Homo sapiens: one gene and its partner. The protein of the gene in region 1 interacts with the protein of each later gene in a biochemical or structural test. Each region holds a gene or a part of one and is shown in the gene's direction. Other genes may lie near its edges.

What was found.
Region 2: the proteins of FGF19 (region 1) and FGFR4 form a complex in vitro, tested with the Homo sapiens proteins (2 studies listed by BioGRID and IntAct).

Annotation. Positions count from the first base shown.
Region 1 is NC_000011.10:69,701,990-69,705,889, reverse strand, and holds the start of FGF19 (fibroblast growth factor 19 precursor), read left to right. Parts: upstream 1-1,867; 5' UTR 1,868-2,013; coding exon 2,014-2,245; intron 2,246-2,525; coding exon 2,526-2,629; intron 2,630-3,900. UniProt on the Homo sapiens protein: Involved in the suppression of bile acid biosynthesis through down-regulation of CYP7A1 expression, following positive regulation of the JNK and ERK1/2 cascades. Stimulates glucose uptake in adipocytes. Activity requires the presence of KLB and FGFR4.
Region 2 is NC_000005.10:177,089,732-177,093,631, forward strand, and holds part of FGFR4 (fibroblast growth factor receptor 4 isoform 1 precursor), read left to right. Parts: intron 1-658; coding exon 659-922; intron 923-1,013; coding exon 1,014-1,094; intron 1,095-1,206; coding exon 1,207-1,373; intron 1,374-1,953; coding exon 1,954-2,077; intron 2,078-2,589; coding exon 2,590-2,780; intron 2,781-2,914; coding exon 2,915-3,053; intron 3,054-3,406; coding exon 3,407-3,600; coding exon of another isoform or gene 3,601-3,674; coding exon 3,675-3,820; intron 3,821-3,900. UniProt on the Homo sapiens protein: Tyrosine-protein kinase that acts as a cell-surface receptor for fibroblast growth factors and plays a role in the regulation of cell proliferation, differentiation and migration, and in regulation of lipid metabolism, bile acid biosynthesis, glucose uptake, vitamin D metabolism and phosphate homeostasis.

The DNA of each region.
Region 1 (3,900 bases):
CCGCCTTCCTCATTTCCCCACCTCCCTGATCGCATCAGCCACTCTCTTCCCCATGTCCCTGGAAGGGGCTGCAGAGGGGTAGGGGTGGAACCAGAGGCTGCCATCGCCCCCACCCGGTTTGGGTCGTGTCCCCCAGTGCAGCCTCTGCCATCGCCCTCAAGAGCATTTATCACGCATTTACCACGGATCTTTAAAACGAAAGCTGCAGGGGAGGGTAATTAAGTTTAATAGGAGCCGCCGTCGATTTAAAGCCACAGGGGGGAAGTAATTAGATTTAACAGAAGCCACGGCTTTCTGAACCAAGACACACAGCGTGGGGGTCCCTGGTCTAGAAAGCCTTCGGGATGATGTCTTTTTGTAAAGACTTTCCTGGTGACATTTGCTGCGCCCTCAGTCATTAACGCCAGTCACTGACTGGGGAATGAATGTGGCCTCTGCTCATTGAAATTCATTAGGCCTGGCATTTCTCTCGCTGTCTCTCCTGTTTGCCCTCCCCATCGCCTTTGCGCTGGGCCAGGAGGGCTCTGCCCCCAAAACCAGCCTCCTGGGGCCCCACATCCAGGAGCTGGGGGTTTGGAAGAATAACAAGAAATAATTAGAGTTAAACCAAAGCCCCGTAGGAGGACCCCTTTATTCCCCGCCTGGGTATTCTCTGGATGTCGTTTTCTTTATTGGCAGGAACCGCTTCATGGAGCGGCCCCCATTTCTTTCCTCACCTGGCACCTGCCCGGACGCCAGGGGCGCCCATCACCGTTCCTGGGCCCCTTCCCGACCCCTCCCCACCAGGTAAGGCGCTCTCGACCTCCCCGACCGTGCTGTTCCTCCTGACCCCGTGCGCAGGGACTCGGGGACTCAAAAACCAGACCCCCGACACAAGACAGCTCAAAAAACGGGAAACGGAGGCCCAGGCCTCCCTCCCTGCGCCCCTGCCTCCACCACCCTCCAGCCGAGAAGCTGGGGTTCACCAATCCCGCAGCTGGCCCGCCCACCCTGCCCGAGAGCCTCCTTCCCAGTGCCCCCTTTCAGGTTGCATCTCGCGCACAGCCGCGGGGCCGGGGCGAGCGCGGAGCAGGCAGGGGCGCGGGGCCAGGAGCGCAAAGCCCAGGCGGACGCCGAGGCTGCGGCGCCACCTACAGTCCGCGCGGCTTCCATTGTTTCCCCGCCGGCCGAGAGCGCGCCCGGCCCCCCGTCGGGGGGCAATTTACCCGGATAAAAGGGGCGGGGCAGGAATTGCAAGAAGATGAAGCTGAAAGAACCTGAGACTGTCGGAACTGCCGGGGAAAATTCTACGGGACGGCTTTGACGTCAGATGTGCGGGGCTGCGAAAGTCGGGGGAGGGAGTGCGAGTGGGCTTTTAAGGGGAAGGGCACTAAGGCCGAGGTGAGGCTTTTCCCGACAGAGGGTGAAGGGGGCAAAACTCGGTGCCCCCCAACCTCTGGCCCCGGGGTTCCTGACCCCGCCCCCGCTAGTGCCCCACGCCGAGTGCATCCACTGGGAGCCTGAGGCCTGGGGGAAGGGCCCCAGTTGTCGATTGCTTTACAAAGTCAAACTCTCCCAGCCAAGAACCTCGGGGCCGCTGCGCGGTGGGGAGGAGTTCCCCGAAACCCGGCCGCTAAGCGAGGCCTCCTCCTCCCGCAGATCCGAACGGCCTGGGCGGGGTCACCCCGGCTGGGACAAGAAGCCGCCGCCTGCCTGCCCGGGCCCGGGGAGGGGGCTGGGGCTGGGGCCGGAGGCGGGGTGTGAGTGGGTGTGTGCGGGGGGCGGAGGCTTGATGCAATCCCGATAAGAAATGCTCGGGTGTCTTGGGCACCTACCCGTGGGGCCCGTAAGGCGCTACTATATAAGGCTGCCGGCCCGGAGCCGCCGCGCCGTCAGAGCAGGAGCGCTGCGTCCAGGATCTAGGGCCACGACCATCCCAACCCGGCACTCACAGCCCCGCAGCGCATCCCGGTCGCCGCCCAGCCTCCCGCACCCCCATCGCCGGAGCTGCGCCGAGAGCCCCAGGGAGGTGCCATGCGGAGCGGGTGTGTGGTGGTCCACGTATGGATCCTGGCCGGCCTCTGGCTGGCCGTGGCCGGGCGCCCCCTCGCCTTCTCGGACGCGGGGCCCCACGTGCACTACGGCTGGGGCGACCCCATCCGCCTGCGGCACCTGTACACCTCCGGCCCCCACGGGCTCTCCAGCTGCTTCCTGCGCATCCGTGCCGACGGCGTCGTGGACTGCGCGCGGGGCCAGAGCGCGCACAGTGAGTGCCCGCCAGCACCCCCGCCCGCCCCGCCGCGCGCACCCCACCCCGCTGCGCGCGCCCCACCCCAGCGCCCTTCCTTCCTTTGCCACCCTTAGGCTCCTGCGGACCCCTCAACTCCTGGGAACCCCAGGTTTTGGCACCTGGACGTTAGGATCCCTCCGTTAGTCCCCAAACAGCGCGGGACGCTAGGGAGAAGCACAGGCTTGTGGACCGACCGCACCCACGTGGTGCGGGCCCAGCGGTCCTTGCTGCAGCTTCTCGCTTCCCCTGCGCCTAGGTTTGCTGGAGATCAAGGCAGTCGCTCTGCGGACCGTGGCCATCAAGGGCGTGCACAGCGTGCGGTACCTCTGCATGGGCGCCGACGGCAAGATGCAGGGGCTGGTAAGTGTCCCCACGGGGCGGATGCGCCGGGGCGGGGGACCGGCGCCTGTCCCCGGGCGGAGGCCTGAAGGAGAGAAAGGCGCTGGTTCGAATCCAGGGTTTCCTCGCCTCCTCCGCCCAGACCCGCGTGCAACTTCGAGGGAAAGATTGCAAAGACCGATTAAGTGCATGTCCGACGATTTCCTACGGAAATTTAGGGTCTCAGCCAGCAGCCAGAGAATAGGCAAAAGCTGCCTTTGCATTTCCAATTGAGTCAAAGGCCGGCCTAGCCGGACCGAGGAAACCCATTATTCGGCCTCCTTTGATATTAAACAGGAAAACCCACCTCGGGCCTTTTCAGCCTCTGCCTGCGCGTGTGTGGTCCTCGCCTCCGTTTCCCTCCCTCCAGTATAAAAGAAGAAAAAAAGAATGGGAAAGAAAAAAGAGGATCTACCCATAACTTTCCTTTAAAAACAAATCAATTGTCAAGCAAGGCAGAAAACAGTGCATTTGGGATAGGAGAGATTTTTTTTTTAGAATTAATTTTTAATCTACCAGGAGCACGGTGTGGCTTAGACGCAGATGCGCTGGAGTCATGTTGCGCCAGGGGAGTGCTTTTCCTCCTGCGGGCCTCACCTGTCCTGTAAACGCTTTCTGGTGGGGGCAGGGGGTGGGGGCTGGCAGGGAAGGCCCAGGTAACCGCAGAGGTCCCGGGGCCGGAAGTGTACGAGCGCTGGGGCTCTGGTGGCCGGGAACAAAGGCTGGGAGTTCAAAGGAACGAACCCGCGCCCCTCCCGCGGCCCCGCGCGCAGAGGAGGCTGTGTGAGGTCTCGGCCCGCGCAGGCCTCACACGCAGCCCCGGACTCCCTGGCGGAGCAGGGGCCAGGGCGGGGGTGGCCGCGCCTGCCCGGGGCCCCCACCCCAGAAAGGATGCAGAGGCGGGGCCGCCTCCGGCCCAACCAGCTCCTTTGTGAACAGCGGGACAAAGCATTTTAGAGTCTCAAAATTGCTCGGTGCCTCTGCCGTGCTCCGTGTACTCGGAGCGCCTGTTTCAGGTTTTATGGCGGAGTCCTGCGTGAGAGGACTGCAGAGAAAGGGGGTGGTCGGCACGCTGGACGCTGACTCCCACCCAGAGCCGCTCCAAACCCACCCTTGCAACTTTAATTTTGACATTTACTATGGCAGGGGGTGTGGGGGTTCCTAATGATGGGAGGCCAGCAGGGGACGTCAACCTAACCCGCCATTCTGCCCAAATTGGGGGTTGGGTCACCTGAAATCCCTCTGTGCCTTTT
Region 2 (3,900 bases), on another chromosome or scaffold:
AAGAGTGGGCACCAGGAGGGGGCTGCTGGGCTGAGCAAAGCTGGAAAGGATCCTTGCCCAGGCCCTGAGAAGGTGGCGGCAGGGCAGGGCTCAACCACTGAGACTCAGTCAGTGCCTGGCTTCCAGCAAGCATTCATCTATCACTGTGTCTGCGAGAGAGGACTGGCCTTGCAGGGCGCAGGGCCCTAAGCTGGGCTGCAGAGCTGGTGGTGAGCTCCTTACCTGGGTGTGTGTGCGTGTGTGTGTGTGTTCTGTGCACTGGGTGTGTGACCTAGGAGGTCCAGGCAGCATGTGTGGTATAAGCATTATGAGGGTGATATGCCCCGGTGCAGCATGACCCTGTATGTGGCACCAACAGCATGTGCCTTGTGTGTGTGTGTGTCCGTATGTGTGTGTGTGTATGCGTGTGTGTGTGTGTGTGTGTCTTGGCCACTGTCGTGTGCACTAAATGCTGTGTGTGTGACATGCCCCAAGAGTGTGGCATTTGCCCTGGGTGTGGCATCCGCAGCATGTGGCTGTGTGGGTGTCAAGGAGTGGTGGCTCCTTCAGCATGCGTTGCAAAGTGCTTGTGCCCTGCATGTGCGGTGTGTTCTTTGTACACAGGAGGCTGCCTCAGATGGGGCTGCGGGGTCTGCTGACCTCTGCCCTCTGCCCACAGAGCCCTGCCTGGCTCCCAGCCTGGAGCAGCAAGAGCAGGAGCTGACAGTAGCCCTTGGGCAGCCTGTGCGTCTGTGCTGTGGGCGGGCTGAGCGTGGTGGCCACTGGTACAAGGAGGGCAGTCGCCTGGCACCTGCTGGCCGTGTACGGGGCTGGAGGGGCCGCCTAGAGATTGCCAGCTTCCTACCTGAGGATGCTGGCCGCTACCTCTGCCTGGCACGAGGCTCCATGATCGTCCTGCAGAATCTCACCTTGATTACAGGTGGTAAGAGACTCTAGCAGGGAGTGAAGGGATGCCTGGGGAGACAGACCTGCCCCTCTTGGACCTTAGATGCTTCCCTCTGTCCCTGATGTAGACTCCTTGACCTCCAGCAACGATGATGAGGACCCCAAGTCCCATAGGGACCCCTCGAATAGGCACAGTTACCCCCAGCAAGGTCAGTAGGTCTCCAAGGACTTGTGTCCCCGCTGCTGCTCATCTGATCACTGAGAAGAGGAGGCCTGTGTGGGAACACACGGTCATTCTAGGGGCCTTCCCCTGCCCTCCAGCACCCTACTGGACACACCCCCAGCGCATGGAGAAGAAACTGCATGCAGTACCTGCGGGGAACACCGTCAAGTTCCGCTGTCCAGCTGCAGGCAACCCCACGCCCACCATCCGCTGGCTTAAGGATGGACAGGCCTTTCATGGGGAGAACCGCATTGGAGGCATTCGGGTGAGTCTCTGGGTTCCAAGACCGTCTGCTCCCCCATTTTCATTCCTTCATCAGTCCCCTCATACCTACAAGCATACCTATAAATCAATCGAATGAGTGAAGCGATTGCGGGGCCCCGGAAGGAGCCCTGGACTGTGGACCTGGGCAGCTCTGGTTCCCCTTCTGCTACTCTCTGGCAAGTGACTTAACCTCTCAGCCTCAGCAACTCCATTTGTAAAGGGAGAAGAATCACTGACTGGTTGGTCTGCATAAGCCTTAGCATCTCATCGTCTTGATGAGACCCTGCAGGGTCGGCTCCATGCTGTCATGAGGCAACTGAGTCTCAGAGAAGGCAAGGGTTGGCTCAAAGTAGCACAGCTAGGGAGAGGGAGAGCTAAAATTCCAAAGGCTCAAACCCAAGGCTCAAGCGCCCTGGGGAGCCTACTCCTTTGTGCCATAGTCCTTGGCCTGGGCCTGATGTTCTCAGGGCCTAGAGAGCTTGACAAGAGCCCTGTGGGCAGGATGAGGATCTAGCCTCCTGGTCCTCTGGCCCCCTTGGTGGACATGGTCCGGTGGTCCCGGACACTCTCTCTGCCTGCAGCTGCGCCATCAGCACTGGAGTCTCGTGATGGAGAGCGTGGTGCCCTCGGACCGCGGCACATACACCTGCCTGGTAGAGAACGCTGTGGGCAGCATCCGCTATAACTACCTGCTAGATGTGCTGGGTGAGCGCGGGGCTGGGAACAGGGGAGGCCTGACCCATTTTGGGCTCAGTTGTGCCCTCTTGGTGGGGTCTAGTCTGGCAGGCAGGATGGACTCAGATGAGTCAGGCAGCTTGGTGAGCAGGTGGGTCAGGGGAAAGCACAGGGGTTAGTGTGGGGCTGGAGGAGCAGAGGTCTGCCAAGAGGAAAAACAAGAAGGACATCCAGGCAGAGGGCGCAGCCCGAGCGGAGGGCCTGAGTATAACAAACGCCCTGCACTTGCAGGCCAGCATATTCGTAGGGCGTGGCGTTTATATGGGGAGCCAGGTGGTGGAGGGTTTTGAATGCTAGGCTGAGATGTTGTCCTTGACCCGAAGCAATAGGGAGCCAGGGAAGGTTTAAGCAGGGTAAGCAGGAGACAGACAAGAAGCTGCAGAAAGGTCCCTCCCTTGAACTTGAGGAAGGCTGGAGGGAGGCAAACAGGGTGCTTCTATGGGTGCCGGTGGTCAGGGTTGACTGTCTCGCCCGGTCCCCAGAGCGGTCCCCGCACCGGCCCATCCTGCAGGCCGGGCTCCCGGCCAACACCACAGCCGTGGTGGGCAGCGACGTGGAGCTGCTGTGCAAGGTGTACAGCGATGCCCAGCCCCACATCCAGTGGCTGAAGCACATCGTCATCAACGGCAGCAGCTTCGGAGCCGACGGTTTCCCCTATGTGCAAGTCCTAAAGGTAAAAGGTGCACCCTGCTGCAGCCTGGGCCCCATTCTTCTCCCACCTTGGGTTGGGGGGCTCCCCAGCTTCCCTGTTGGCCACAGTGTGGCCCCAGGCCCTGCTGTGACCCCAGAGCATGTCCCCCACCCCAGACTGCAGACATCAATAGCTCAGAGGTGGAGGTCCTGTACCTGCGGAACGTGTCAGCCGAGGACGCAGGCGAGTACACCTGCCTCGCAGGCAATTCCATCGGCCTCTCCTACCAGTCTGCCTGGCTCACGGTGCTGCCAGGTGAGCACCTGAAGGGCCAGGAGATGCTGCGAGATGCCCCTCTGGGCCAGCAGTGGGGGCTGTGGCCTGTTGGGTGGTCAGTCTCTGTTGGCCTGTGGGGTCTGGCCTGGGGGGCAGTGTGTGGATTTGTGGGTTTGAGCTGTATGACAGCCCCTCTGTGCCTCTCCACACGTGGCCGTCCATGTGACCGTCTGCTGAGGTGTGGGTGCCTGGGACTGGGCATAACTACAGCTTCCTCCGTGTGTGTCCCCACATATGTTGGGAGCTGGGAGGGACTGAGTTAGGGTGCACGGGGCGGCCAGTCTCACCACTGACCAGTTTGTCTGTCTGTGTGTGTCCATGTGCGAGGGCAGAGGAGGACCCCACATGGACCGCAGCAGCGCCCGAGGCCAGGTATACGGACATCATCCTGTACGCGTCGGGCTCCCTGGCCTTGGCTGTGCTCCTGCTGCTGGCCGGGCTGTATCGAGGGCAGGCGCTCCACGGCCGGCACCCCCGCCCGCCCGCCACTGTGCAGAAGCTCTCCCGCTTCCCTCTGGCCCGACAGGTACTGGGCGCATCCCCCACCTCACATGTGACAGCCTGACTCCAGCAGGCAGAACCAAGTCTCCCACTTTGCAGTTCTCCCTGGAGTCAGGCTCTTCCGGCAAGTCAAGCTCATCCCTGGTACGAGGCGTGCGTCTCTCCTCCAGCGGCCCCGCCTTGCTCGCCGGCCTCGTGAGTCTAGATCTACCTCTCGACCCACTATGGGAGTTCCCCCGGGACAGGTGCGCTGAGCTGTGTGGGGGCAGGGACGCGGGCGCCGGGTTGCAGCCCGCCCTCCGCAGGAGTGACTCGGAGGTCTGAG